3 separate regions of the Homo sapiens genome follow, and all the other regions are linked to region 3. Evidence: fine-mapped expression QTL. A gene starts in region 3. Each other region holds a variant in brackets. All regions are shown on one strand. Distances are from middle to middle. Region 1 overlaps PKIB (cAMP-dependent protein kinase inhibitor beta). Region 2 overlaps PKIB (cAMP-dependent protein kinase inhibitor beta). Region 3 holds the start of PKIB (cAMP-dependent protein kinase inhibitor beta).

Region 1 (10,487 bases), 99 kb after region 3:
ACTATTGTCGGTTCCAGGCCAAGTCTGAGTTTAAGGCAAAAGATTGAAGACTGAAGACAGCTTGAAGACAGGCAGAGAAAGAAATTCTCCTTCTCTCTATCTTTTTATTCCATTCAGGACTTCAATGCATGGGATGTGGCCCGCCCATATTGAGAAGGGCAATGTGTTTTATGCAGTCCACTGATTCAGATGTTAATCTTTTCTGGAAACACCCTCACAGACACACCCCGAGAAATGGTTAACCAAGTATCTGAGCACTTTGTAGCCCAGTCAAGTTGGCATATAAAATTAGCCATCACAATTAGCAAACTTCTTAACAGCAAAAATAGAATAATGTGGAATAATATTGTTAGGTGCTTTCATCCTAAAATAGTGTATTTGTAAGAATGAAGATAAAAATAGATCTTTTCAGTCATCAAAAAACTATAGTTCCCAAAAGAATTTCAAAGGCTAAACTCCAGGAGAAAAGGTGAATTATCTCAGGAATTGGAACATGAAAAAAATAACATTGTGGAAATATAACGGTATGATGGATATACACAGAAGACCAATTCTTAAATACTTAGATATATGCTAAGGTATTTAGATATGCAGTGTCATGTTAATGGCAGCTTGCTTTCAGTTGGTGAAATAATAACTGTGTGTGTGTGTGTGTGTGTGTGTTTATGTTTAGAGAGATTAAATATAGCAAAGTGTTGATCATTGAATCAGGTGGAGGCTCCTTCTTGAAACCCCAGTACTTTTGGAGGCCAAGGAGGGAGGATCACTTGAGGCCAGAAGTTTAAGACCATCCTTCAACTCTACAAAAAGTTTTAAAATTAGGCAAGTGTGATGCTGCCCACCTGTAGCTCTAACTATTCGGGAGGCAGACAGGACATTGCTTTTAGCTCAAACAATTGAGGCTGCAGTGAGTTGTGATCATGTCACTGCACTCCAGTCTGGGAAACAGAGGGAGACCTTGTCTAAAAATAAAATATACCAGAAAAACACTATAGCTGAAAGCCATCTATTTAATAATCCTTAGAATTTTTGTCACAAATTATTATAAACAAGATCTATTGTTTCCATGATCAAAAATTTCTCCACCAATATCTAATTTTGTGGTGCCTTTGTGAGTCCTCCAAGATCATCATGGTTCAATGACCACATTGATAATCAAAGCCTTTTTCAGAAATCAATGGACAATAAGAGTGTATTTGTCTATTTCTAGAGTGTCTATTTTATTTTGTATTCTATTTGTCTACCCTTGAGGAATACCACACAGAATTAATAGCCATCAAGTCTGATAGTGTAAGTCCTTTACTTTTTCCTTTCTTTTTGGAATAAGAAGTTATTCTCAGTCTGTAGCATTTTCATATAAATTTTTGGAATCAGCTTATTACTCTATTGTGGTAGATTTGATTTAAAAACTTCACCTTTTAATATGCTTTAATGGTTCTCCTTGACATCTGTCTCTATTTTCAGAAAGCGCATCTTTTTTTTTTTTTTTTTTTTGAGACGGAGTCTTGCTCTGTGGCTACACTGGAGTGTAGTGGCGCAATTTCGACTCACTGCAACCTCCAGCTCCCTGGTTCAAGTGATTCTCCTGCCTTGGCCTCCTAAGTAGCTGGGATTACAGGCACATGCCACCACGCCCAGCTAATTTTTTGTATTTTTAGTAGACATGGGGTTTCACCATGTTGGCCAGGATGGTCTCGATCTCCTGACCTTGTAATCTGCCTGCCTTGGCCTCCCAAAGTGCTGGGATTACGGCATGAGCCACTGCGCCTGGCCAGAAAATGCATCTCATACACACCTTTACTATGTGATTTAGAAGTTTCATGATTCCCTGGTGCTTACAGGATACGTTCACATATTGTTCATGGCATTCATTTTCTTTCCCACTATGTTATGACTATGCTCCAACTCATTTTTCCAACTCCACGTGGGCATAACACTCCATGGCAGCGAAATGTTTCCTTTTCTCTTATTTAGAACTTGCTTTTTGCACTCCCCTCTTTTAGCTTACAGATATTTCTCTGGCTTAGTAAGCCTTTCATTCCCTTTCTACCTGTGTGGATTCCTCCCAAATTTTGAGGCTCTGTGTGTGTTCTACAGCCTTTGTGAAATATTCCTTAATCACCCCAAAATTCAGTAACCATTTATCTTTTACATTTCTATAGTAGTTTTATTTATAACACTTATTTGAATATATCATATATTTACTTCTATTTTTACATTTCCTTTAATATGCAACATATTCCATCTGTACGATGAGTTCACAACTCTTTCAGGGTGGGGACCATATATTAAGCATCTTCATGTGTCCCCACTGTTTCTATCACAATGCTTAGTCTTATTTGCCACTGTTTCCCCAGAGTCTTGCACTGAACGGAAGATATAGTAGATGCTTAACAATAATTGATTGAATGAGGACTGAGTCTGTGCTCAATAAATGTTTGCTGAGGTGTAATTTAAGGAGAAAATAATGAGTTGTGAGATGAAATGGGTTCCAGTCTTGTCTCTGTTACTTGCTAGCTAGGTTTAGCCAAACCCTTTTATTTCTATGATCGTCAGTTTCCTCACCCTTAAAATGAAGACAGTAGTGACTAATCCACAGTGTAGAATCACATGAACAAATTCTCAATAAAGTGCTTTAAAACAATGCATGCTTAACACATGCATATGCCATTTTTCATATCATAAAAATCTTCATTATAGAAAATTTGGAAAAAAGTAAAATTCAACGAAGAAAATAGAAATCATTAATAATAACATACACAAAGGGAATAACTATTATAATTTCAGTATATTTCCCTTAAAATGTTTTTCTGTGAATGTATTTTAAAACTAATATATGCATAGTGGTTTTAAAATTTTGAAAATTTATGTTTTTAAATATTTTAGATATTTTCATGGCCTCATTTTTCTATTTAACTTATATAGTACTAAAGGACTATAGTAACATAATTTTGTACAAAATGTTTTTATAAAAGTTAAATGTATCAATTTAAATAATGCTACTTCTATTAACTTAATTGCAGGTTAATATAAACATGCATAATTTGATGAAAAAATATTTCAATTAGATGATTTTTCTTTCTAAAGTTGTTTGCCCTTTGGTTGGGATTTTTTTTCCTCTATGACCCAGAAAAATTCTCAAAACTACTCTTAATTTTTGTTCCCATAATTTTGATTGAATTTTTTGCTTGCTGCAACGTTATAATGATTTCTTCTGTAAAGTACCGAAGATAACTTAGAAAACAAATCAGAGCTCAAAAAGGCTTAATCATTTCTCTCCTTTTCTTTGTTGGAAGAAAAAAATGAATATTATATTCATTTAAATATGGGCTAAGAGACATCCTAAGAGTTTTTCTTTAAATTGATGAAATAGAAGAAAAAGACACTACCGAAACTGTGGGTGCATTTAAAAAAGCATTATACCTATCTATTTTATACCCATTTTATTTATCCGATTAAAGAAACATTTATAAGTAATTTCAGTACTCAGCCATGTTCCTTGCTTTTTGGCTATGCATATTTTACATAGTTGGTATATGCTCTCTAATGTTAACATTCAAGAAAATTTTATTTTTTCAAAACTGTCATTAGAAATTTTGAATTATGTTGATTTGAGAAAGATTGCATTTTTAAGATATAATAAAATGATATCAAATAAATATCATCTAGCTTCAAACTAAATGGTGTGTAAAATATGTTGTGATATTCTTGTATATGTGCCGCTGAAAAAATTCTGGCAGGTTATGCACCAGAATTACAACAGCACTGTTACTGGATAGCGGGATGGCAATCTCTTTTTCCTTCTTTATGTCTTTTGGAATTGTCCTTTTCCCAACAACAAGCATATATTAATGTCATATGCAAAAAGAAAAAAAATTCATGTTGAAAAGTGGAAAGACAATTATTTTATTTATTGAGTGCTTGCTGAATAAGAATCAGGCATGGCTTTTGGTCCTATGAATACATCAATGAAACAACCTACAAAAACAAAAGCTCTGCTTTGTGGAGCTTACCTTCTAGTGAAGGGAGACAGACAATAAGCAACAACTGCAATCATAAGTAAATGCGAATACATTTTCAAAGCTAGTAAGTGCTAAGAGAAAGTAAGAGGAATTAGAAGCTGGAGGGATGAGATGCAATTTTAAACAAGGTGGTTAAAGCAAGCCCCACTGAGAAAGCAGGACTCTGTCAATATTATCTTTTGTGACCCTTTTTCCTATGCCATATTATCTCATTTTAATATTACTCAGATTAAGAATGCTTTTTTAGGCATCATGAAGAAATCAAGAATTTCAATCCCATTTTAACCATTGGAGAGAACACTGAAACATGGTTTGTTTCTGAAAGTATGTGAAAATTTCACCTTTAGGGAGAAATCTTCCTATGGGCAGTGTAGGGGAGATATGGTTTTCTGTGACTGGTGACTTGTATGGTTCAGATGTTGCAGAAACGTAGACAGGTTTGAGGGTGTGCTGGGAAGCAGATTGTAAATGATTTTTTGAATGCCTTTTTAAACAATATCAACTTTCTGGAAATGTCTCAGAGTTAATCTCTTTTTCTTGACATGGAGTCTTGCTCTGTTGCCCAGGCTGGAGTGTAGTAGCGTGATCTCAGGTCACTGCAACCTCCTCCTCCCGGGTTCAAGTGATTCTACTGCCTCAGCCTCCTGAGTAACTGGGATTACAGGCATGCGTCACCACGCCTGGCTAATTTTTGTATTTTTAGTAGATACTGGCCAGTAGATATTGGCCAGGCTGGTCTCAAACTCCTGACCTCAGGTGATCTGCCTGCCTCAGCCTCCCAAAACCCTGAGATTACAGGCATGAGCCATCACGCCCAGCTGCGTTAATCTCTTTCTGCCTACAGTCCAACATCAGAGGCTGTCTCTAGAGCCACGTCAACACTGTTGCTTAAAAGAATAATTGATATTCATAATGATACTCTGTCATAGTGCCTATAAATTTATATGACTGATATCTAAATAAATTCCATTTGTGTAGTTGTTAACCAAGCACATTTATAACATTAGTTCATTTGAGTCCAGGGTAGTAAAATAGATAATATAAATCCTACTTTTTAAAAATGTAGAATGCTAATCAACAAAGAAGTTAGATGTCTTTCTAGAAGTTGAAAGTCCAGGATTCAACTTCAGAAGTGTTCACTTTTAGGCGACCAAACTTCCCATTGCTCCATATAGACCGTGTAACAAACAAGAGGACTAAGGGCAGTCACTTTGAGAGTGTGTTAATGCAGTTAAGTAGTGCCCAAAGCTCTGCTTTCAAATCATCATTTAAAATAGTTTTATTTTGAATATGTGCAAATCTAAATTACCTAAGGAGGTTTTGAAAAGTAGCTGAAGTCATTCTTAGTACAAAGAGATGGGATCAAGTGGGAGTTTTTTTTTTTAATTAAAAACAGTTTACTATAAAATACGTTATATTTTAAATAGAACATGTTACCACTATTTGATGTATGAGTATAAAATGAGTTGCAATGATGGAGTCACAAAAACAGTTTCAGAAGTGGAATAAATATGTGGCTACTTAAAGTAATTGCTTTGATAGATGATACTCATTTCCATCTATAAATTTTGGTGTGTTAGTAAAAATAGTTCTATTATTTGGTATCACACTGCATTTTCCCTTTGAAAGATAAATAAGTATATATTAATTATAAATGCTTTCTGAAATGAAAGTTTAAAATTTAAAGTGTCCATGTGTATAACCATCAGATGTCCTAGATGAGGGTCGTACTGTATGAGTTTTTGCAGCAACTACTGCTCTGGCTCTACCAATCCAGGTTTACTACCCACATCTAAAAACCATTGTATTTGCCATTAGTCTACAGCCTGACTCCTATCTATTTTGATGTTAACAAAACAAAATCTATTTTAATACTGAATAACTGAACTTTCAGTCTTATTATTTATTTACTTTTGATCTTTATTATGAATATTAATAATGTAAAGGACCTTCATTTTCAGCTCATAATCGATAGGTATCAGCTATTAATTCAACATTGATTTATTGATTGTATTAAGCAGATATGTTCCAGTCTCTCTACTAGGCAGAGGGATATGAAGCCATTTCTATTGTGACCACATTGGTAAGAATTAACTTCCCCTTCTCTTCTTCCTACTGATGTCATAAACC[G/A]CCATTTGACATTTTAAAACCATATATCTCATTGAAAAGGGAACTGACTTTTTAGGCCTTGCATGTAAACCCCCAACACAGACGGCCGTGTTCCCTCTTTGTAGGGAAGAGTACAAGCAGACCACAAGAACTTCAAAATCACATTGTACACAAGAACTTCAAAATCACATTATTTTCCCACTAGGGCAAATTCAGTGCTGGGGATTTTGTGTACTTGGAGTGTATTTGTGCCCCCTTTGAAATCTAAGAATACTTTGTGTACAATAGTAGTTGGAAAAGCAACTAAATGAGAAATGGGTGGTCTGAGGGCAGCCCTTCTCTGAAATTTGCTTACTTATTTTCTGGGGTTCCATTAAATGCTGTGTTCCCTGTGAAGCCTGGCCTCATTTTCTATCCTGGAATTAAGCGCTGCCTCCACTGCTCACGTGGTAAAGGTGCTAGCACGCAGCCTTCACAGACTGCCAGTTAAGGCATGGGAAGACCTTACTTACTGTGCCAAATTCCACAGTATCTAGCGTGGGGCTTTGCAGAGTTGGTGTTACATAAATGCTTTTTGAATTGAACCCTAACTTCTTTAAGCAGGCTCCAGTACCTCAATAAAATAAGAACCAACAATATTTGAGTCACTGGTTAGAAAGAATAATGTGAAACAAATGAAAGTGAAGGAGTATAAATAGGGTTTGAGGTAAGGTGGGAAAAAAAGAATGAGAAGGGTTTCTTCAAATCCGTGCTAAATCCTCTCAATTCTGAATACTCTGAAGCTAGAAATAAAAGCTAAACTATATAAAATGTAGACAGTAGGGATGCTTTGCTATGGTTATAACCACTTATATTCATCTAAAGGAGAAGTGAAAATATCACTGTATTCTGGATAACACCCAATATACATAGCACACACACACAAACACACACACCACACAGGGACACACACACCCCACTCAAGCTAATGTATTAAAAAGGAAACCTGTTTAATTTTTAGAAAGACTTTTTCATATACAGTGAATTTTCTTTTTTATTTTTATCCCTGTAGATAGCTGGGTTTGTTTTTGTTTTTTGTTACGGAAAGCAGCAGGAGGAATCATGGTAATGGAAGAAAGAGTACCGCCTAAACTTAGGAAAGACTTTGACACAAATTAAGCTATGTTATATTGATGCATCACTTAAGTGTCTGGATCTGGAAGTCTGGACTATATCATCTTTTCAAATGTAATATCCTGCAATCATGTGAGAAATTTATTAGTCCTTTTGGGAATCTGCAAGTGGTTGGGAGAAGCCCAACTAACTCCCTGCAAACCTTTATGGAGGATACATGTTGAATAAGTCTTTCTAGTATGAAACTAAAAAGAATAAGATGACCAGTTAAATCTGACTCCCCCAAACACAGACACATACTCAAGGAGGCTACATAGTTTATTGCAGTCCATCTTTTTTATCATTAACAACATTCATGTATATTAGTATTGTAAGTGGCCTTATGTTAGTATAAGAAGTAACATTGTGCTGGAAGGGTATTCAGCTTTGTGCATTAATTTATCTGGAAAATTATGAAAAAATTAATTTGACTTTGCATTTTGAATTTTATATGTTTAAGCTGTCAAAAATTCTCTGTGGTAAAAATAACTTCCATGTGCCTACCAATGTATATTGAAGGATCTGTCTATGCAATTAGCAAGCAAGAACATAAACATTAAAAAATGTGCGTGTCAACAAACCAAAGGTAGGGTTCCCTTTGACTTACACTAGAGACAGAGAAATACCATCTTTTGAAAAATTTCAAAGACAGGAAAGTTTCTAAGTTGAAAAAAATTACGCAGGTCTACATTTCATGTAAGTTCTGTTTAGCTTAAAATGATCTTGATACTTAAGTGAATAGGAGATATGTAAAGCATTTACATTTTAGGAGTGGGTAATTTTACTTTATTTCCAAATAATAGGATTTGAGGTCAAGAAAGGTAACTAGAAAGATCAAACTGTGTCTCATCTCACCAGACTCTGGGTTCCTCTTTGTAACTTGTGGGCCAGCAACAAGGCTTTGCACTTAATAATTTAGTAGGAGCTCAAGAGATGACTGAATGAATAAATAATGATCTGTTTTTGTTGGCACATAAAGAAGTAATTCTAGTTCTTTCGCCTTTTTTGGAAGAGGTTCGTGTGTTTCAAAACAGAAAATTATATGAAATAAATAATTCGTAGGCAGAGAACTGAAAACATGTAGCATAAGGGATTAGGATACTGAGAGCTGGAGAGAGGTAGATAAGGCATTTGGTTATCAGGGGAGACCAGTGTCAGTCTGTCCATTTGTCAGTCTCTCCTTCTCTCTTAGTCTTTGGTCAGGAAAAGCACTGACATTTTTTCCAAAATGCATGTTTTTACTTCTTTGTTATTTTGTGTTTTTTCAGAAAGTCTGACTCATACCTCCAGGGAACTAATTTAGCGGGCAAGAAGTTTATTTGAAGTCTTAGGTATAAAATGAGCAATGGTTTCACTGTGGAAGATAGGGTGAGTGATATGTATCTGGAGATGAGAAAAGAATGGATCTACCATTTTGCAATCTTGGCTTCAAGTAAGGAAGCTTGAGAAAATAATGTGTTTGAATTAAGAAAATGGACCTGTTGTGGGGAGGAAACAGTTTGCAAAACTTCTGTTTGTTTATAATTATGCTTCTAACATACTAACATCCTCTTTTTCTTAGCAGGCTCTTCGGGGCCCACTGGGTTCTGACTGGTGATTTTTTAATAGCCTTTAGTGCTCCATTTATCTTGAACATCTCGTCCTCTTGAGTAGTGCTGATGTTGCATTCTCAATATTTCAGAGACTGTAAAGATGCTGGCATGTGTGTATATACATATATAAATATATATATGACTGTGTAATAGTCTTTTCTCAAGCAGCCTGAAAATTGTATATTTTCAATAGAGATAGAAGTGTGTCTCAGGCAACGTAAATTGCGTTACCTTGCTGTGGGATTGCAAGGACTTTTGTGAAATCTCCAAATGTCTAAATGGTTCCAGCTCCTGTAAGCAGCCACAGTTGACAAAGCAGCACTCATCTAGAGTCCTTTGTTAATTCTCTAGAAGAGAAAGAGGAAGAGTTGCTAGTGAGTCAGCTGCCTTGGTTGGCAAACATAACATAATTAGCTATTTAAGCCCAGAAAATGAAAAGACCCTCAAGTTAATCTGTCATTTTTCTCTGCAGTATTTCCTCATCTTTCTGTGGGCTATATATTATAATTATCACAAGCCATTTGAAGAGAGCAATTGTCTGTTTTCTATATGTATATCGCCCCTTTTAAAAAAACCAAGCATGTGCAATCGGTGTTGTATAGAAAACTAACAACAGACAAATGAGAGATGGCTACTGGGGGAAGGAGAAGCTTTCACTTAACGATATGCTATCATTTGGTTAAATTTTCAAAATGTTACTTTTAGAGCCTTTCTGTGCTAGAATATCTGTTTATTTATAATTTTTCCAGGTGGATTTTTCAATTCTTTTAAATTACAAAGGTAATATATATGCTCATTAGTAAAAGTGAAAATATGTAAAGAGGTAGAGAAAAAGGTTAATATTTTCCTTGTTCTACCTTCCGTTCCCAACTAGAATTTTTATTATTTGTATAAAGTTGAGGTTACATTGCATTCATAATGCTCTCCCCTTTTCCCCCTATAAATATTAATTTTTAAACTTGCTTTATTTCACAGTGTGTCAGTGGATCTAATACATTCTTTAACACTGTGGTATAACATTCCATAACATAATTACATAGCTTATTCAGATACTTTTTTTCTTGTTGGGCTTTCAGGTTGTCTCCAGTGGTACAATAAATCTCTTTGCTTTGGAGTTTAAAGAGCCCAGCTAAGAGTCACCTTGTGGATTCAAATATTCCTGCCACCAATTTCTAGGCCATTGACACATTTGGTCAGGAAAATAGCTTTTCTCTGTAGAAAGTGCCATCTTCCTACATCGCTGTGAGGCTGGGCGGGGTTAGCTATTCGGTCTGCCTCTGGTGAAGCATGACATCTTGGTCAGTCAATATCAGTGGCAGACTGAAAGGAAGATTGTGCCAAATGTGAGTTTGCCACAGCCAAGTACAGCCCCGAAGTAAAACAGTTTTGTTACTTAGCCTCCCTATATGGCCACTTCTGTTTTCGATCTTAAAATAGTAGTTAATGAATATAATTTTAACAAACTTTTAGATAGTTTTGTGATTCTTTTATTTTCCAGCATCGATCTACAAAAAGGACTAATTAGAAAGCCTCTATGTGAAATAATAATATAAAGGCAAAAGGAAAAACTTCCAAAATAGCAGTCAGCTAGCAGCAAAATAATCTTGAAATA
Region 2 (10,499 bases), 59 kb after region 3:
ACTTATATAAATGCTTCTCCAGTTCTAGAAAGATCATGAATTAGTAAAATTAAGCTTGTTTTTGTTCTTGTTGACTCATATACCTGGGTTAAAAAAAGTTTCAAAATGACAGCAATGACAAAAAAAATAAGGTTAGGCTGCATTGCTTAGTAAAGATAAGTAGGAAAACCAGAAGTGAACATTTCAACCTTTGTCTATTGTTGAGCAAAATACGAAACCTTAATTTGGCCAGTTTATTTTGAGAGATTGTTCTTGCAGATAATGCTTAAGAGTCACTCTTCAAAGGGCCCTTTAAAATGGATTTATTGCAAAATTTTATTTCAAATTATTTTCTTAGTCTAAAATTCAAAACTAACAATCTGCATCTTATTTAGATAAAAGCATCTAAATCTGCAGCATGTTAAATAGTTAGCAAAGAAATATTCTTCTGAATAAGATCCTTCTAATGCATTTCTCTGCTGTGTGTGCTTTTTCTAGGATATAGAAGAATGAAATAGCAATGACAATGTTAGGACAAAGTAGACTCGGGAGAGAGACCTTCAGCTCAAAAAATAATGAGATCAAAATCACACAGGAATTCACACAGTGTTAGTTTTGAAAGGAAACAGACGTTAGGGAAAGGAAAAAAGAAAGTTGGTTGTAAAGTCAGTTTTTAATGAAAAAAAAACTGAAAATGCATTTGAAATTTTCATAGATATTTTCTGGTCCTATGCATATAACTGGTTATTTAGAGGTAATTGTTTTTTGATGAAGCTGAGTTTATCCTCCACCCCCTAACCTGACACCTCAGTAAAGGAATGGCCTGTGACCTTGTGCTAGTCTTTTAACCTTCTAAAGCACAGTTTTTCCTTCGGTATAAAGAATAGTCATAATAGCAACTTCTGTTTATTAAGCACTTACTATGTGTTAGGAATTACACTAAGTACTTTTCGGACATTGTCTCATTTAATCTTCACAACATCCTGTGAAGTGGAAGTTTTATTTCCACAGTACAAATAAGGAAATGTGAGCCGAGTTTCCCCAAGTCATATAGCTATTATGTTCTAGAGCCAGTCTGTCTCCAAAGCTCGTGTGCATAGCATTATACTGTCTTTAATGTTAGTCTTTTCCAGCCTTAGCCTTCCATGACCAAACCTTTATGACCATCTGACTTCCTTTGCCCAGTGCACTCACCATCGACACTGCCTCTCAGCCAGATTCAAACAGGTTAACCTTGCAAAAGCCCTTAAATTTCCAACAGGTTACCTATGCAGAAGAAGAAACTGAAGTTCAAAGGGCTTATTGCTTTGTAAGGGCTCATTTAGCTAACCAAAATCATGTCCGTTTAATAGCAGTATCTTGACTGACTCAAAAGGGCACAAAAATATAATATCTACTTCAAAAACATTTTTTAAAACTGGGGATATGTGCTAGTTGTGTTTTGTTTTTGTTTTTGTTTTTGTTTTTGTTTTACTTCTCTTCCACCTCTAGGAGTCTATCAAGTCACTTTCTGGTGGATACGCAATATGACAACACATCTCTTAGTAGTCTTGAGCTGCCCTCATGGGCGCATTTCTGTGTGCTTTTTGAAACAGACCAGACTCCTTTGAGCAGGTTACTGATCTTATCAAGGTAGGGAGTGAACATCTGGTATTAATCTATAATGCTAAGAGGGTATCTTATAGAAACCATTTTGAAAAAATATGGGATATATCAAAAGTGACCTCTAAAGTATAATTCATCAACTTTACTTTCAGACAAAGTCTGAAAAGTATATTTCTTTTTGTTGCTCCTGTGAATCGACTTAGTCAACCACTACTACTAGTATTAAGTCCATATGGCGGACAGACCTGGATTCATGACTTGACCTTGCTTGGCACTGGTTCGATTATAACCTCAAGCTTCCTTAGGCATCCAATGGTACTAATATTTTTTTTTTTATGGCTTTTGAAAGGATTCAGTGAGAGAATGTTTAATGCATCTAGAAAGTCATGGGCACTCCACAATTGTTTGCTCCCTTTCCTCCCAGTGAGTTGGTATGTTCCTTTTTATATTTAACATAGTTTTCATTGGCCTTCTTCTGTGAGCACAAATGTTTATAGATGCCAGATGGAAATAATGCGTCTATGTATGTAACAATACTGGGGTTAGACTTAACTTTTTTCAATTTATTTTATAATTAACATCAAAATTAACTGTGATGCCTAACAATTTCCTCTTTAACCTCAGATATACCTATTAAAATGTTGTAAGTCGGCCAGGCGCCGTGGCTCACGCCTGTAATCCCAGCACTTTGGGAGGCCGAGGAGATCGAGACCATCCTGGCTAACACAGTGAAACCCCGTCTCTACCAAAAATACAAAAAATTAGCTGGGCGTGGTGGCGGGCGCCTGTAGTCCCAGCTACTCAGGAGGCTGAGGCAGGAGGATGGCATGAACCCGGGAGGCGGAGCTTGCAGTGAGCCGAGATGACGCCACTGCACTCCAGCCTGGGGGACAAAGCAAGACTGTCTCAAAAAAAATAAAAATGAAAATAAAAATAAAAGTTGTAAGTGAGATGAAAGATAATGTAAAGCTTATGAACTTTTTTGTTGGTGTTTGAGGATTATAATATAGGTAAGAAAGTAATATAAGCTAAGAAGTTTAATAGTTATGGAAAAAAATTAAAAGTTACTTCTTTTATTGAGGCTTTGCAAGCAAACATTAAGAAGCACTGAATAGTTTACAAAAAAAATGTGAATCTGCTGTTTTGGTGCTGTGGTTTTTATGTGGCACATGGTAAAAAAGTAAAGAGAAGCTCTTTCCAGATTGATCTGAGTGGCTTTCAGGTTATATTTAAATGCCAGGAATTCTAGAACCACACAGGCCACACCTGAAAAGATATACAGACAGACAGGAGTGAAGCAATGGCAATTTTGTGTGTCGAATGCTGTGTCATGAAATGCAACCCCCACCCTCTACCCTGCTCCCACTTAACATATACACACTCTTCTCTTACTCCAACTCAAAATAAGAAAAGAAGGTTTCTTTCCCCTCAAGCTAATTTCTTGGTGTACAGCAATCTTTGTTCAGCTATTCTGCAACCATATGTAAAGGAAAGGTCATTTTAGAGCAGGTTTTCACACTCTGATCTACCTGGAGAAGTGAAAAGTATTGTCTGGTCATTAAGTAAAAAAATGACAGGGTTTAGAATCCCAAAATGTGTACCAGTATTAAGAGTTTAAAAGAATACTGTATATAGGATTCAAGGATAACACTAAAAACAACAGTGAAACTGTCTTCCAAACAATTGGAAAGACCGTGGATAATGCAGTCACTATGTGAAGAGAAAAAGGAGATTCCTAACCGATTTCTCTTCAAAGGAAGAGAGAGGGATATCAATTTCTCATACTAAGTGAATTAGTATGATCGACTTTTATGAAAATGTTCTGGTAAAGAAAAATGGAGTCTTTCCTGATGTCCCTTAAGCAGCTATACTACACATTCTGCAGACTAAAACTAGAGAGAAAACAATCTTCAGAGAAAAAGCTAAAATGGTGTGTTTTGTCAATATGAAGTGGACAGTGGAATACAAAACAGAAATCTTCGGTCTGACTTCTCCCTAAAAAATGTCCTCCTGGTTGGATCAACCAAGCCAGGTGGGGAAGAAGAACCGTTGGAGGGCCTAGTATAACATTGCCTGAATGTTCTGGAATGCTGATGACCTTCCAGGAATATTAGCACATCTCACAAGTGATACAGACTCCCAAACTCTTTCTTCTTATATATAACAGTTGGCTTCTATGTTGCCAACTTTATTAACTTCAAAGCTTAATGTGAAATTTAAATCACCATATCTTCCAATGAAACAATAAAAATTGAGGAGGAGGATTTGTTTCAATTTGCCATTTCTACTTACAGACATCAGCCCCTGGCTGGGTGCGTTGGCTCACTCCTGTTATCCCAAAACTTTAGGAGACTAAGGTGGGAGGATTGCTTAAGGCCAAGAGTTTGAGACCAGCCTGGAAAATATATTGAGACCCCATTCCTATTAAAAAAACAAAACAAAACAAAAACAATCAGCCTCCTAGAAAGAATATGTGAGTAGAAAGGCACTTATGCTTCATTTTCCCTTCATTCTTGTCACCTCTTTTCTTCCTCTATTGTGAGAATTTAAAAAGGACAGAATGTCATAGGTATCTGTTGGGTGTTTTTTTTTCTCTTGGAATTCTGGAAATTTAAACTAAAGAAATTATTGAGATCTGGCTTGTTCAGAACTGTAATTAATGCCTTTCTATTTCAAGAAATGATTGCTTCAGTTTTTTTTGGGAGCTTTAAATGGATTTAAGACATTTAGCCCACATTAGATTCCCTTTAAATTTGTTTGTCAGCTTGAATCAAGGTTAATTCTATTATTCCATGGTTTTAATCATTAACCCTTTCCTATGTAGGATAATAACATTCTTTTTTTTTTAACCTTTGCTGATTACTGCTGCTCTCTTCTGCCTTTTGTGAGAATACCCCATCATTCAGCTTTTGGCATTCTCTGATCTTAGTCTTAGATTCTATTAATTTTCACATTTTCATCTGTATATACTATACAAAATTGCTGACATTTCTATTTTCAAATTTTTCCTTTTGTCTGAGTTCCAGGCCCATACTTTCAGCTCCC[G/A]CCTTGGCTGTTTTCCACCATCTGAACTCCACCCATCTCCCTCTCACCTGTTATTTTGTTGGTGGTTCCAGTATTGTCCTAGTTCCCTGGGCATAAAACCTTGAAATTGTTTGAGTTCATCATTCTCCCTCATTCGGTGTAGCCTATCACCACATTCCATGGATTTTTCCATTTTGTAAATTCTTTTTATGTCCATATATATTAGTTTCCGACATCAGTTTGGCAGTTATTGCAAAATCCAAAAATGACAGTGGATGAAACGCAATGTAAGTTTAGTTCTATCTTATGTGCAATCCAGGCAGGTGCTATAGGGCTGGTATAGTGGCTTAACCAGGTTAGGGATGCAGGCCCCTTCTATCTAGTTGCTTTGTCATCTCCAAGGTATTGTGTTTGTCCACCTCATGAAGCATGACTCGCAGCAACAGATGCAGTCCAGTTTTCAGAAAGGGCAAAAGAGGAATGAGAGACCACATTCCCTTCTCTTTCAGTATGTAACCTGGAAGTGGAGTATATCACTTCTGCACCTAGCCATATTTAATGAAGAAATCCAGTTGCATGACCTAGCAGCATGGAAAGCTTGGTAATACTATCTGTGGCTGTGTACCCAGCTAAACTTTCTATTTCTATAGAAAGGGGGAGAGGAGCAAATAGCAGCCAGCCAGCAGTATTCCCTACACTCGTCTTCCTCCAGTTTTATAGTCTGCACCCTTTGGTGGGCCCTTATTGCCCATTGCCAAGGCTATTTCTAAAAACTTTTGCTGGATTTGCTATTTGCTTACTACCAATCCACCCATCACCCATTCTTTCTTATAAGGAATCACATGTTTTTGTTGTTGTTGTTGTTGTTGTTGTTGTTAAACCTCATCAGACCTTTGCTCAGTGGCCCACAGCATGAAGTCTCTGTTTCAATATTCTTTATAATCTGGTCCTAGTATACCTGTTGCCAGCCATCTTTCAACTTTTATTATTTCATTAATTTATTCATTTAGTATATGTATGTTGAGTACTTACTATGTGTCAGGCAGAGTCATTCATTCTCCTAAGCTAGTTCATTTGAGTTGGTGGACAGAAAACATCCTCATGAATGCACATCATTTTCAATGTCACCATGATTCATCTCTGTGATGATTGTGTTCACCATTGTAGTGCTTGAGAGGTTAAATGCATCCTCTTAAGAGTAGACTTTTAAAACTAGGTCTTACAGTTGAAGTGGTTAACTTGCTTCACATAGTCAGATGATGTTCAGTGGATACATTTTAACTTTCAGGGTTTTATGTATTTTAGAACTATGCCTTGCTTTTAAAAACAAAACAAAAATTTAAAAGAATACTTATTGAAGAGGCCAGGCGCGGTGGCTCACGCCTGTAATCCCAGCACTTTGGGAGGCCGAGGTGGGCGGATCACGAGGTCAGGAGATAGAGACCATCCTGGCCAACATGGTGAAACCCTGTCTCTACTAAAAATACAAAAATTAGCTGGGTGTGGTGGTGGGCACCTGTAATCCCAGCTACTTGGGAGGCTGAGGCAGGAGAATGGCTTGAACCCAGGAGGCGGAGGTTGCAGTGAGCCAAAATTGCGCCACTGCACTCCAGCCTGGTGACAGAGAAAGACTCTGTCTCAAAAAAAAAAAAAAATACTTATTGAAGTATCTATAACTAGATTTAGTAGCTCATTGACATTGTAAAATAGTTCAAATGAAAGCATAGGTTAGGTCTTATCTCGTGTTACAGTTGTCTAGTTGCTTATTTGTTCCCAAGCAACCTCACCTGATCCCCAGTCTTACAGACTGAAGTGTAAAAGCCTTTACCGGAACATGCCTTTGACTGAACTTTGTCCTCCAAACTACATTTCCTTCTCCTTCTACAGTCCTTGGTGTTTTGAGGCAGAAATTTGCATAATGTAACTAACCTGACATGATTTTTATGTTTACAATTCATTTTTCAGAGAAGTCACTGAACCAGGTGAGATACATGAGGCTGACTTATACAAGTTCAGGGTTAAATCTGTATTTAAAACTTTGATATTTTGTTCATCATAGATCTTTGCATAAATTTCTATTTTTACAGTGTATGGCATTTACATGTTATTTATCTTGATTTCTGAGCTTTTGGGCACCCCCTGAAATTTTGTGCTTCAGACCTGATAGATTCTTCTCCTTTATGCATGTTATTTGCATGTTAACATGGCTGGCTGCTTGAGTAATTAAAACTCAAGTTAGAAAATATATATTTGGAAGAAAAAATAAGTATTTATTGTTTTACCAAACCCTAGTACCAAAAATTACCTTAATTCCTGTTAGTTAATGGTTTAAGTATTTATATTTACAACTGAGGTCAGCTTGGGACATGCAGAGAAATCAGTTCCTGCAAGCAAATACTGATTGTCCATCAAAAAGGAGGATGGACAAGCACCAAGATGAATATTTTTAGCTACATTATTATATCTTTCTTGAAAAGGCTGCTCTTGTTCCATCTCCAGCCTGGTAGCCTCATCTCTAAAGTGGCAGTGTAGACATGTAGTTTTCCCTGAGAAGGAGGAGAAGAGTAGGGAAGGGAGTGAGTAGAGCATCAGACCTTGAAGCCCGAGGTACCCAGAGCAGTTCTGCTTGCATCCATCTTGAGTGTAGGCCTTCTGCTAAGGGGTTCATTTAAAAAGAAAATATTCCTCATCTAAAAACAATAGTTTGAAAATGATTGAACTAAATGACATTCAACATCTCTGCTAATTCTGAATGTGCATGTGTTTCTACTGTGATAAATTTCTGCTGATTCACCCATACTTTGATCTGTTCCCTTTGTAAAGGGTATCAATACACCTTGATGAGTCCACTGGCTTTTTGGCTGTTGATATGTCTTAGCTTCCATGTATATCACCAAGTTTTCTCTTGATTTAGTTGTAGTTTCAGGAGAGAGAATGGAGAAAGAATCAGACCTCGTGTGGTAGAAACATGCAAATTCTGCATCGTACACTGAGGATCATGAAAAAATATTAGAACATCTAATTATATCTATTTATATTTTATTTTTAATGTCTGTTAATGTATTTAACATATATAATAATAATATAGCAAATAAGTTATATTAGACTATTAGGATAGTAATACTTATAATTTATAGTATAAATATTCATATATAGGAGATATGTACACACAAAAATTATTTTTATATTTGTTAGGGGCGTGCTACTGTTCTTGAAATCTTCCCAAGAATTACTGCACTTTCATTAGTAAAATATTTGATAAGTGATATTTTAAAGGATGAGTAGAGACTCTCACAGTCTCAACCTTTAGTATTTTTGTGTTAAGCATATCTTCATTAAATCTGAATTTTTATGTACATTAGTAATAAAAAACATGGATGAAATATTTTCAAAGTCCACCACATAGGTATATTTGTTTGTAAAATAAACTGGAAAGAAGTGGAGAGGGAAAAACATAACTATTTCACTCATTTTTTTTTATTTTGGTTGTGTTGCAATAGACAAGGATAGGTGGATTTCTGTAAAAAAAATTAATCATGGAAAGGTTATAAAATTATAGGGATATTTTAAACATGCATTTTTAAAATGCAAATAGCAATGTTTACTTTTATCTAACAGACTTTAAACTAGATTCTTATTTATAGTTTCTACTAGATCTTTGCCAAGAGCTGCATCCAAATGGTTGAAAATATTAAGACTACAAAATTTTGTTTTCTTAATCATGTCTTTTAGGTGTGTATATTTACATTACATTATATAAGTTTTGAAGTTTACAAATTTTTATCTTTTTGCTACTTACTGTATCATCATTTCTTCATTTATTTCTCACTTCCTCTTCTCAGTTCCTTTTATTTGGTCTGGACATATAGGACTCATTGAAGGAAAAAGTCCCAGACAAAGAGTGAGAGGAAGAGCAAAGATCATTTGAGAAACTGAGTATGGGAACAAGGTTAAAATGATGTCTGCTTTTAATTTTAAAATTCTTCCAAGGTGGTAAAATACGCATTCAGGCAGCTCCAAGTCTGAAAAACACCTAATGCACCTTGACATTCAACAGGTATTTATTGCACTCCTCCTACCATCTGTGAAACACTGTGCTGGGAACAAGACAAATGAGTCACAGTCCATGCCCTCAAAAGGCTTAAAAAAATGTGTTTGCAGCAGAAAAGCAGACACTAAACTGAAATGTGTAATGCCTGTGATAAGCACAAAGACAGATCTATACCAGAGTGTTTTAGAGCACATAGGAAGGAACCTGCCTAGACTAAGGAAGACATAGAAGGCTCTGGAAAGGGTTGCCCAAGTTGACCCAGAAGAGATGAAGAAGATATACTAGCAAGGAGATGGGGAAGAGATGGAGGGCAAAGAAACTCAGCCACAGGGGTGACAGAAATAAAGCACAGGATTCTACTGGTGGAGTGTGACTGCAGAGTTTTAGGATTGGTGGAGGTTGGGCATGGGTGAAAAGGAAGGAAAAGTGGAGTGGGGCTAGTTCTTGGAGGGCACCATGTACCACGTGAAGGGATTTGGGCTTGATATTGTAGGTGATAGGCAAACTAATAAGGGTTAATTGTAGAATGATCATGACTATATTTACTTTGAAATAATTCTACCTGACACCTGTGTAAAGAATGGATTTGCAGGAAGCAAGAATGCATACAAGAAAATCATTAGGACGTTGTTGCCACAGTCCAGGAAGAGTGAATGGTAGGTTGAACTAAGGCAGTGAGAGTGTGGTGAAGGGAATTTGCAAAGTGCCTTATTGCTATGAGTGGCTAATGTGCATACCGACGGTTCATACTCCCATTATTTTTCACCCTTCTTATGCCAGATGCTAAGTCCTGAAATATAAGGCCCATTCTGTGAATAGGAATAATATATAGGTAGTTTACTTTGATTTCCAAGAGCAAGATGGTTCGATTCCTTTGACATGATCCTTATGTGGGTACTGGTAATATTGGTACAATGCCTTAGAATACTTATGGAGGGTGCAGAAGATTCTCTACAATTATATTCTCAAAGTCTGGTGTGTTTCTACAAACTTCCAAAGGTGGTATCATGCCAAATATTGTCCTACAATCATTTTTATGTGGCTACAAATATTTCCTGTAATGATCAGTTGTTTTTACACGATGATTTCTCAACCTGGCAATGATCCTTAACAGCATCAATGCAGCAATCATCCACTGGATTTTGTAGCTGATAATCTTGGGAACTAATAACTGTTATTTGAAATAAGATCCTTTTGACTTTTAATAGAAAATTTTATGTTTGAATTAGAGGTTCGGCTTTTCCCGAGAAAGTCAGGCAAGTCATGATGTTTACCAGTTTTAGCTAAATATTTTAAAAAGCCAAAAGTAATTAAAATTTGATTAACTGGATTGCCACCTTTTCTGGTTCTTCATAGTTTTTTTTTTTAATTTGCAGGAAAGAAAGTTTATCAGAATTTTTTAAACCTGTCTCAGAAATAACAACATATTTTAATCAGAGATTTGTAAGTATCCTTTTCTTCTTTATTTAGGAAATTATATGTTGATTTTGTGAAAGAAATGGTTCCTACCATAAAACACTTGACAGGAAATGGATATTTAGTCTGAAGTGGCATGCAAAATTTGAATGAGAGTAATACATATGCAAAAATCTACCACTCCTCAAACAACAAAATAAATAAACCAAAGCCTCAATTAGAAAACCTTCACCAAGTCTATCTATAGCTCATAAATATTTGGTTTATTCTTTGGACATTTCTCTTTGATGATGTCTTTTTCATTATCGTTTTTCCTTTTGTGAAGATACATGTGTGTCTACATATTTTAGAGAGTTTGTCACATCAATGAGAAGGAAGAGAAAAAGAGGTCCACAGGAAAGGGAAGAAATAGTATTCTGTTAAA
Region 3 (10,499 bases):
TATTTTTAGGAAAGGGTGAGATATGGTCATCCTGTAGACTCTCCCTTAATACCAAGGAACCACATATGTCCTCTGGAATGGAGAGTGGGCGAATCCTCCCCTCCCCTCCAAGAGGGAAGCCAACTTCCTCAGTTCTTTGTAACCACACTTCTCACTGTCCCAGGTACATGACTTCTCAGTGGTTTTTGTCCCCAAGGCAGATAGCTACTCTCAGGGGTGTAAAGACTCTGGGCAGCTCTAATCTTCTGATTTTCATATGTATTAAATATCACAGTTTGAAAGCTTTAGAAACATTGATAAGGTTCATATTATTGTAGTTATCTTTGCCAAATAGACCTGAAGAGCTATCATGCCAGTGTCATCCAGCCTTGCTATTCCTCTGGCCTCCATAGACTTGGCTACAGTGGACTGAATGGTGGTCTCTAAAAAGATATGTCCATGACCTAACCTCTGGTACCTGTGAATTTGACTTTACTTGGAAAAAGGATCTTCGAAGATGCAATTAAAGTAAGGATCTCCAGGGGAGATCATCCTGGATGAACTGGGTGGATGCAAAATCCAATGACAAATGTCCTTATAAGAAGAGGGGAATACCAATGCCAACAGTAGAGAAGAAACATAGGGAAGATGTGAAAATGGATGCAGAGATTGGAGTTATGTAGCTATAAGCTAAAGACAATCAAGGATTGCCTGTGGCCATTAAAAGCTAGAAGAGGGCTGGGCATGGTGGCCCACGCCTGTAATCCCAGCACTTTGGGAGGCTGAGGCAGGCGGATCACCTGAGGTCAGGAGTCCAAGACGAGCCTGGCTAACATGGTGAAACCCCGTCTCTGCAAAAATGCAAAAATTAGCAGGGTGTGGTGGCATGTGCCTGTAATCCGTGCTACTTGGGAGGCTGAGGCAGGAGAATCGCTCGAACCCAGGAGGCAGAGGTTGCAGTGAGCAGAGATCGCGCCATTGCACTCCAGCCTGGGTGACAGAGTGAGACTCTGTCTCAAAAAAGAAAAAAAAAGCTAGAAGAGACAAAAGAGGGTTCTCCCCTGAGTCTTTACAGGAAGTGATACCCTGCCAACACTTTGACTTCAGACTTCTGGCTTCCAGAATTGTGAGAGAATAAATTCCTTCTGGTGTAGGTCACCAAATTTGTGGTAATTTTTAATGGCAACCCTAAAAAAACTAACCCACCAGCATATAAAAACATGGAGTATGATGATGGTAACTACTGTCCACTTCTTCTGCCCAGGTGTCAGCCAGCCTGGCCCTAAAGAGATGTGAAAACTAGATCTCACTTGAAACCTTGCAGCCACATCCTTCTCCCTGCATCTCTTGGTCTTCCCTCAAAATACAAACTTCTGCATTTAGTCTTTCCCAAACTTTAATCCCTAGAAGGTAAATACTGATTCTTGCTTCACCCATGCAAGAATTTCTACTTTCTTCCACACAGCATTGGTTATATAATTTGCTGGGCTCAATGAAAGATGAAAATGCAAGTCCCCTTGGTAAAAAAAAAAATAATAATAATAAATAAATAAATAAAATAAAATAAAATAAAATATTTCAATGCAGGGACAGGGGAGCATTAAACATTGCACAGGGCCTTCTTAAAAGTAGATCCTGAGCAAGGCATGTGGCTTATGCCTGAAATCCAAACACTGTGGAAGGCCAAGACGGGTGGATCGCTTGAGCCCAGGAGTTCGAGGCCAGCCTGGCCAACATAGCAAAACCCCGTCTCTACAAAAAAACAAAACAAAACAAAACAAAACAAAAAAACAAAACAAAAAAACCCACAAAAGTTAGCCAGGTGTGGTGATGTGTGCCCGTAGTCTCAGCTACTCTGGAGGCTAAGGTGGGAAGATTGCTTGAGCCTGGGGGGCCAAGTCTGGAGTGAGCCGAGATTGGGCCACTGCACTCCAGCCTGGGTGAGAGAGTCAGACTCTGTCTCAAAAACAAACAACACGTAGATCCCTGCTCAACTGAACAGGTCATAGACCCACGAAGCCAGCCCTACCTCCCACCTCTTAACTACTCTGACCTTGGAGAATCCTCATTTAATATTGAAAAATACCACCAACCTCATAAACTATTTACACAATGCTTTCTCCATTTTCTGGCCTTAAGTGGAAATAAGCTTTCTTCTAAGAATTATTTCCCCTAGATGTCCCTTTGATATAGACTGTTCATTGTTTCACATTCTAGGGTCACAGGGGCAGTGTTGGGATCCTTGTAACTCCCCAGTATTACTTCTGAAGTCTTAATTGTCTCTTTTACCAGTCCTTGATCCACTTACGTTTTTCCTCCCTGGATATGCACCTTCTGCCCCAACTTTGCATAGTCATCCTCTCAGTTCTGGATCAGTCCACTACATTCACGGAAGTGTTTGTTATCAAACTCACTCCTTTTTTCATTCTGGTATTACTGTTGGTGGCTTCAATGTCCATATAGTTTCTTCAATACCTTAGTCCCTAATGTCTTGATCTTCGTTCTACGTCAGCCAACCCCACCCTTAGCTCTTCCATAAACTGTCTATCTTTGTACTTCTAAAACTTCAAAGAAAACGATCCCATTTCCTGACTACAACTTATCTCTCTCATTTGATGTGGATTTGTAGTTCTTGGACTCTTCCTTCTTCTCCCCTCTTTGTCCTCACTTATTTTCCTATTTATTCTTGTTAACCTTAAAACCTTGTCTTAAAAATAGTATCCAAGCTTGCTCCTTGTCTTTTCATCACATCACTTGGCACAATCCCAAAGTTGGATTAAACTTTCTGCATTTAAAGGCATATATTTGACACAAATTCACAATTCACATGATTGTGTGGAATTACTGCTACCACCAATTCTTGGACTCAAAAACTCCTCCTTGCACTTATGGTCAGGTCGTGTCTAACATTTGCAAAAGCAGCTACTGCAAACCTTTCCGCATCTTCTCCTTACTTTCCTAGTAGAAATGAGAGGCCATCAAAAATCTTAAATCTAAATAGACAAAAGCATTCTATAAATAGTGTTCTTATAAGTCATTATTTGGTCTTAAGTGTGGAAACAAAGTTAATACTTATTCATTTCAAAACGGCCTGTAGAGTACCTACTTTGTGAAGGTACTATTCTAGGTGTTGAGGATATGGCCTTCATGGGCCATACATTCCAGTGGTTCTGATGATTTCATATGTAGGTTAAAAGCTTAGCAGTGAGGTCTAGTGGTTTTCTCACATTGATCCCAAAATACAGATTTTACAAAGCAAAATTTTCAAGTATAGGAAATACACTTGCAGGATCATAAAAATCCAATCATGATACCATAATTCATAAGTTCAAACATTTTAGTATCACTCTCTGTCATAGTACCTCTAAAATAAATAAACCTTAGAATAATTTGCCCTAGATAATAAAAATATATGTTATTATATAATATAATAATAACAGGCCTTAGCAGTATGCCAGATAATAAGTTTTAAAGTTACACTAATGATATAAATAACTCTCAGTCTCTTTGATTAATGCTTGTGTAACCACACAAGTAACTATATTTTTATTAGGCGGGTGCAGAAGCTACTGCAGTTTTTGCCAGTACTTTTTTGCAATTACTTTTGCACTAACCTAATACAAAACAAAATGTGCCTACATCACAATTCAGAAAAATCACAGCTTTATTAGCAGAGTATAATTTAAGGAAGTCAATCAATCCTGAAGGCAGAAAGACCTAAGTTCAAAACTGATTTGGAATCTTCTCAGCTATTTAGCCTTGTTCAAAGTATCTAACCTTGCTGAACCTCAGTTTACTATCTGAAAATAGAGAAAATTATTACTATATTGTGGAGGTATGAATATTGAATAATTTAAAGAACTTGATTGTACTACCATTAGCACACACTGAATAAAATATTAGTCTGATTATATTTTCGTATTTCCATATTTAGGCTTTTGCCTAAAAAGGGAATTTGGAAGTGGTCATTGGCAGGTGTCATAGGCTTTGGGTGGCAAGTCAGAGCATAGTATGAATGAGCAAATTAGTAAAGACTAGAGATAAGAGAAGACTTTGAGTACTAATTAAGAGTTTCAGGAGACCAGAGGAGATTTTAAGACTTCAGTGAGAAACCACTTTCTCAGGAAGCAGATAAATTAATTTTATCAGCAGTATCGTCGTCCATGTAATATGGCTTTTAAAAAGCACAGTGAGACCTTAGTAGTAACGACTTTATTTTTCTTAGTGAGAACCTGAAAGTGAAACTTGATATACATTATTTTCTGCTTTTATTGCACAAAAAGTTGTTTCCATTGCATATTGCTTCCTAATCTGTTAAAATAATCTGTTAACAAACTCGAAGACCCAGATTCGGGGCGTAGATAAGCCTGTGTACCTTCCTACCTTCTCCAAACAGCCAACATTAGATCAAAGGGCAACCTTAATGACACCTGGAGCACAAACCCTGCTCAGGGCGCGTACAACCGGAGGGACAGAAAACACGATGCGACGTCGGAAAGCAGGAAGGGAATTGAAATTCCCGCAGTCACGTCACAGAAATCTTAGCAGAACCTCATCATCGCCCAAGGGAACTGGGAGTGGCGGGCGGGGAGGACGCGGGTTGTGTGACGATCACCGATAATTAGTTGGTGGTTAACGCACAAGTAGGATAAAAGAGCTCGCCCCAGGCTGCCAGCAGAAAAAAGCTACCGTGGCACGTGCCCCGGGGAGTGATGCGGTGGCCCGGTTTGCACGGAGAGCGGGACACCGCCTGGGGAGCCGCGCTCGTAGCCTGGGGGCGGGACGCGGCGGCCGCTCCCTCCGCCCCCGAGTAGCTGCCACCGCCTGGCTGCGCCCCAGCCCAGTAGCTCAGACGCGGCCGCATCCCGGTGGACTGTAGAGGCGGCAGCGAGCTAGAGCCCGAGTCGCAGCTCCGGGCCGCAGAGCGCTGGGCGAGCGCGAGCGCCAGGGCACCGGCAGGGCAGGCAGCTGCGCGCGGCTGGTACGTACCTGGTGGAGCGGGCGCGTGAGTGGGTGTCCCTATGCGAGGAGGGAGGAGTGGGACTTGGGAAGTCGGGGGAGACTGACCCAGGGAAGATGTGGTAAGTGCAACTTTCCTATTTTCTGCCCTGCTGGCACAAATATGGGGGGAGTTCGAAGCAGATGCCTCTTTCGCTTGGGCGACCCGATCCATCGTTTAACTCACAAGTCAGGGTACTTAGAGAGTGAAAAGGACGCTCACGCCAACAGGCGTGACGTGGGAGGTCTGTCACCTGCCTTTTGCCCACTCTGCCCTGCAGGTGGCCATTGATGACCTCCTGTCACAAGTCGCTGAGTCCTTCGGCTCTCGCGCCAGCAATGCCAAGTCTTTCCCCTGGGCGGTGCTTACCAAGCCCCGGGTAGTCACGAGCGGCCGCGGGGTTAGCAGAGACCCGAGTACTAACCCGCTCGGCCAGCGTCCGGCTGTGTGGCTTTAGCCAAGTCACCTCACCTCACTGGCCTCCGTCCATTCTTTGGATAAAATATGGAGGTGGGTAGACCGAGTAAACTCAAGGGTCGCCCGTAGCTATTGGATTTTCCCTGCTCCTAGGACCCCGGCAGGCCGCAGGGAGGGACACGAGTGCCAGGTGGTCGCGGGCTGAGGGAGCGGAGGGCCTGTGTTCCGGTTGGTGCTGATGCTAGCCCCTTGGGGAAATTCCTGAAGGTGCATTTCGGAGCCAAATGACCCTGCCTTGCAGCAGGTCCCTTCCAAGGGAGCTGAGAGGGCCAGGTCAGACCGGTCTTCGTAGAGCTCCCCGGGGAACGCAGCCAACGGAACTCGGGTCCTTTAGAAAAGTGCATGCGTGAACTAGGCATGTGGGAAGCACTAAAACAAACAACAAACAAACAACAAAACACCCTGCAGGTGGTAGTGTTATTAGCTGGAGTCTGTGCAGGACTGGAAAGTGGAGATTTGAGGCGAATGACCACTTAAACGTTCATCTAGAAAAAAAATTTTAAAAAAACTCTTTTATCAGTGGTTTGCATACTGAAAGGTATTGAATTAGAAATATTGCGAGTATTGCATTTCTCTTCGTGTACAGATAGATTTCAAAATTCATCTGTCCACTTTATCTCTTCACAAGATGCCTTCCTTCTTACTGACATTGCCACACATTCAAAAAAAATCCTCCTGGGATTTTATATTTAGAAAGCTCAGCATTTGGATTATTAAAATGAGAACTGATGACCATAATGCTCACGGAAAATGGGGTAGGTTATGGATCAAGTTTGGTTAAATCAGCAGTTTATAAACCTTGTTTCCTGTTAGTGTGCCGGGTGCTGGTCAATGCCCCCCTAGTGACACTATCTCAAGAGATCATTTGCTAAAAAGGTGTTTTGGAAGTTCAAAAGATTCGATTTTGAAGGAAAGTATAGCTTTGGAAAGGAAATCTTTTGGAAAACGTTTTTAGTAATGGACTTCTCAATCTTATCTTTACCACAACTTTCTTCAATAAAATATCAAAGACTAATGGACCACATTATGCAGAATATTTTAAAATGTGTCAAATTTCATTTTTGTTAAAGAGTTTTTCCTCCTTTTTAGTCGATTGCAAACATATTGTTTAGATCAATGATAGATCAATTTAATTTTCCTCACAGTTCTTACAATTATTTAAATTCTTACGCAGTTTGCATTACAGCATTTTTTTACAACTTTATTGAGATATAATTTATATATTATAAAGTTCACCCTTTAAGGGTGAATAATATTTAAAAATTATATTTCAGTGAGTTTTAGAAAATTTGTTAATTTTCTAAAAGTTGTAAAACCATTACCATATCTGGTTTTAGAACATTCCAAAATTGTAAAACCATTACCATATCTGGTTTTAGAACAGTTTACTCACTTGGTAAGATTCCTTATGTCCATTATGTCTTTGTTCCCACTCCCATTCCCAGGCAACCATTAATCTACTTTCAGTCTATAGATTTGCCTTTTCTGAACATTTTATATAAATGGAATGATATACTATATGGTCTTTTGCTTATGGCTTCTCTTACTTAGCATAATGTTTTTGGGGTTCAGCTATGTTGTGGCATGTATCAGTATTTCATTTCTTCTTATTGCTGAATAGTTTTCCATTGTATGGATATACCACATTTTGTCAATTTACTAGTGGATGGATATTTGGGTTGTTTCCAATATGGGAATATTATGAATCATGCTGCTGAGAACATTTGCATTCAAGTGTTTGTGAGTACCCGTTTTCATTTCTCTTGGGTAGATGCTTAACAGTGAAATTGGTAGGTTGTATGACAAACTTGTGTCTAACTTTTAAGGAACACTATAGAGTAATTTTTGTAGAAGTTATATATATAAAAATTTAAAAAATTCTGGAAAAATAAATGTTTCTTACTGGATCATATATGATGTTATATGTATATAGAGAGAGGCTTGGGAGAGGAACCATTGCTTCTCTTCAAATTTAGAGCTGAGGTACAGCAAACACTTTTGAAAAAAATGTCGCAATATTTCTCAGAAACGAGATATTTCTTGCCTAATGTTTTTTAATGCTAAATGAGCATGAATCAGGCTTAATCAAGACTAAATTTTCATTAATGTCAATTGAAAATGAGAAAGCATGCAGTTTGAAAATTGTATTTTAAGTGTTGAGACTTAGCCAGCTCTGAATGGCTGGACAATAAATTCGGTGGTTTTCCATTTCTTCAATGCAAAATTTTAATTGAGTTAGAAAAAACAAAATTATTCTTTCCTCAACATCAAAAATAAACTATACGTCTTGTGAACTATATGTCTTGTGATAAGCATTGTTAATCATGATTCCATATAATTATTTTAAATAATAATTAAGCATATTCTATTAGTAGATTTAGGGATCTAAGGCCCAAGAGTAAGTGATTTCCATATACAAAAATCACATATTAGACCAGGGCTCTGGTTTTCCTGTTTTAAAACTTCCCCCATTAGTACATGTTCCTCTAAATCCTGTTAGTTTCAGACATTTTCATATGTTATATGTACTTTAAAAAAGTCATTACCAGGTAGTGACATTACATGGAAATAATCTAGGTTAAGCACTTGAACATCCCCATAAAATCAAAGACAGCTACTATTTTTTATTTTTATTAGAAGTACAACTGGTTTTGGCCCTGCGTGGTGGCTCATGCCTGTAATCCCAGCACTTTGGGAGGCTGAGGTGGGCGGATCACAAGGTCAAGAGGTAGAGACCATCCTAGCCAACATGGTGAAACCCCGTCTCTCTAAAAATACAAAAATTAGCTGGGTGTGGTGGTGCACACCTGTAGTCCCAGCTATTTGGGAGGCCGAGGTAGGAGTATCGCTTGAACCCAGGAGGCAGAGGTTGCAGTGAGCTGAGATGGCACCACTGCACTCCAGCCTGGTGACAGAGTGAGACTCCATCAAAAAAAAAAAAAAAAAAAAAGAATTACAGTTGATTTTGAGAAATCAAATGGATATGCTACTTTTTACTGAACTGAGGTACACTTTTTATTCTAGCAAGTGGCAAATAGCAGTATTATGTGCCCAGAGCAGAGTGGATTTGTGTTCTTCAGTCACTCCTAGTTGTAAAAATGTGACATTGCCCAAGAGTTGGGTGCTTGGTTGGAGAAGAGAGTTCAGAGATGTTTAGATAAAAATAAAACAATCTAGATTTGCATAATTTCCTGAACGGGAAGAGGTATTCTCACCTAGAATCCTGGATCTGTTAGAAGTAGGATTTCTCAGATTGGAAAGAGGGCCAAGGAAATGGAGATTCTTTAAGACAATGTGGTCTGTAGCCAAGATAGTTTTAATGTAATTGAAGAAGCAGCAACAGAAGCATCTACAGACAATATGAATGGAGCTGGATTCCTTCCTGTACCTCCCAGACTCTCCCTTCCTGCAGTCTCTGCTTTCTTCTAAGCACTCTTATTGGCTATGCTGTTGAAAGTATTCTTATCCCCGTGGGGGTGTGGGAGTAAGCATCCCCATGGGGGTGTGGGAGTAAGTAAACTGTAGGCTTTCTTTTTTTTTGGATAAAGTAAAGGGAGAACTGAAGTCCAGTGTGATAGCTTCAGGAATAAAACCATGGAAGACAGGAAATAATTAGGTAGTCTTCTCAAGCATGCTTATATTTTAATGGTCACAAAATAATTTATATCTAGATTAAATTTTATGGATTGAGCTAATACATCTCAGAAGAAGAAAACACCATTCTTAAAATTCTTAAAATCATAAAATCTTAAAATCAGTGTGTGTGTATGTGTATGTGCATGTGTGTGTAAAGAGGGCTTACAACTCATGCAATTACATTAGTGTATTACATTAGTTTATTTTATATTTTAAAATGAAAATAAATACCTCTACCATGGAGCTTCTGGAGCCAGGTATAATATTAAATTTTAAAATGCTGAAATAAGCCCTACTTTTCTCACTTTTCCCAAAAAGGCCTTGAAATCTAATGAAAAGCCAGATTATAGGTATGGTGGATTTTGTTACACTCCAAGGGTTTGCAAAAAGTCTATCAAGCCAAAATTTATAAACGCCAGGACTTCACAGAAACCACTCTTCTTTTCAGTTCCATCATCCTTGAAGAAGGGTGTCTATGATAATTCTGTGTATTGTAGTGAAGTAGTAGAACTTTTTGCAGTAGTGAAAAGAAAAAAAAAATTTTTAAATATGTCTTTCTAACATGCCATGAAGCTGTGCATATGTATATACTGTTGTAATCCTGGGGAGGTTTCATCTGAAGGCTACTGGAAGGACTGCTCTAGTAGGCCAAGCAAGAGATGCTGAATGAGTCAGGGCAGCAGAATTAGGGATGAGGAAAAGTATTCAGATTCTAGAAATATTAGGAGATGAAAATAATTGAGTTTGATGGTAGTTGGGATATGAAGTTAAGAAGACATGAGAATGAAGAGTGCCTCTCAGATTCTTGGCTTGAAGTGAGAGCTGGCACAATTTACAAACATGCAGGTTTAAGAATGGGGCGACTTCATGGGTGTACTGAGTTGGATAATGTCTCCCCAAAATTCACGTCCTTCCTAGAATCTCAGGATATGACCTTATTTGGAAATAGGATCACTACATATGCAATTAGCTAGGATGAGGTCATACTAGAGTAAGGTGGGCTCTTAACCCAATATGACTGGTTTCCTTATAAGAAGAGGCAAGAGACACAAAGAGAAAGACACATAGAGGGTAGACAACATGACAATGCTGGGGGAGATTGAAGTTATGAAACTGTAAACCAAGGGATGCCAAGGTTTGCTGGCAACCACTAGAAGCTAAGAGAGAGGCATAAAACAGATTTCCCCTCTGATTCCACAAAAATGAACCAACCCTACTGACAGTTGATTGGATTGCTGCCATTCTGAACTGTGTGAAAATAAATTTCTGTTGTGTTAAGTCACTCAGTTTGTGGTAATTTGTTACAGCAGCTCTATCAAACTAATACAGTGGGTGTGAGTAAAAGATACATTGGGGTGAAGATATCCAAGAAGCTGTTGTATAACAAGCTCAGAAGATGCAGATTGAG

The links.
Region 1: its variant is fine-mapped to the expression of PKIB in blood mononuclear cells (TOPMed, PIP above 0.99). The same link has a PIP of 0.9 or more in lung.
Region 2: its variant is fine-mapped to the expression of PKIB in whole blood (INTERVAL, PIP 0.92).

The regions. Positions count from the first base shown.
Region 1 is chr6:122,704,091-122,714,577 of GRCh38, forward strand. The region is part of intron 3 of PKIB (cAMP-dependent protein kinase inhibitor beta); the gene reads left to right. Among named protein-coding and RNA genes, the nearest start is that of FABP7, 70 kb to the right of the region's middle. RefSeq lists a silencer at 1-101. The variant G/A (reference allele first, on the strand shown) is at 6,153.
Region 2 is chr6:122,665,043-122,675,541 of GRCh38, forward strand. PKIB (cAMP-dependent protein kinase inhibitor beta) reads left to right here. Exons shown (of 5, transcript NM_181795.3): 3 at 10,036-10,102. Among named protein-coding and RNA genes, the nearest start is that of PKIB, 60 kb to the left of the region's middle. The variant G/A (reference allele first, on the strand shown) is at 4,630.
Region 3 is chr6:122,605,576-122,616,074 of GRCh38, forward strand. PKIB (cAMP-dependent protein kinase inhibitor beta) reads left to right here and starts at 4,830. Exons shown (of 5, transcript NM_181795.3): 1 at 4,830-4,960. RefSeq lists a silencer at 4,681-4,860 and an enhancer at 5,477-6,122.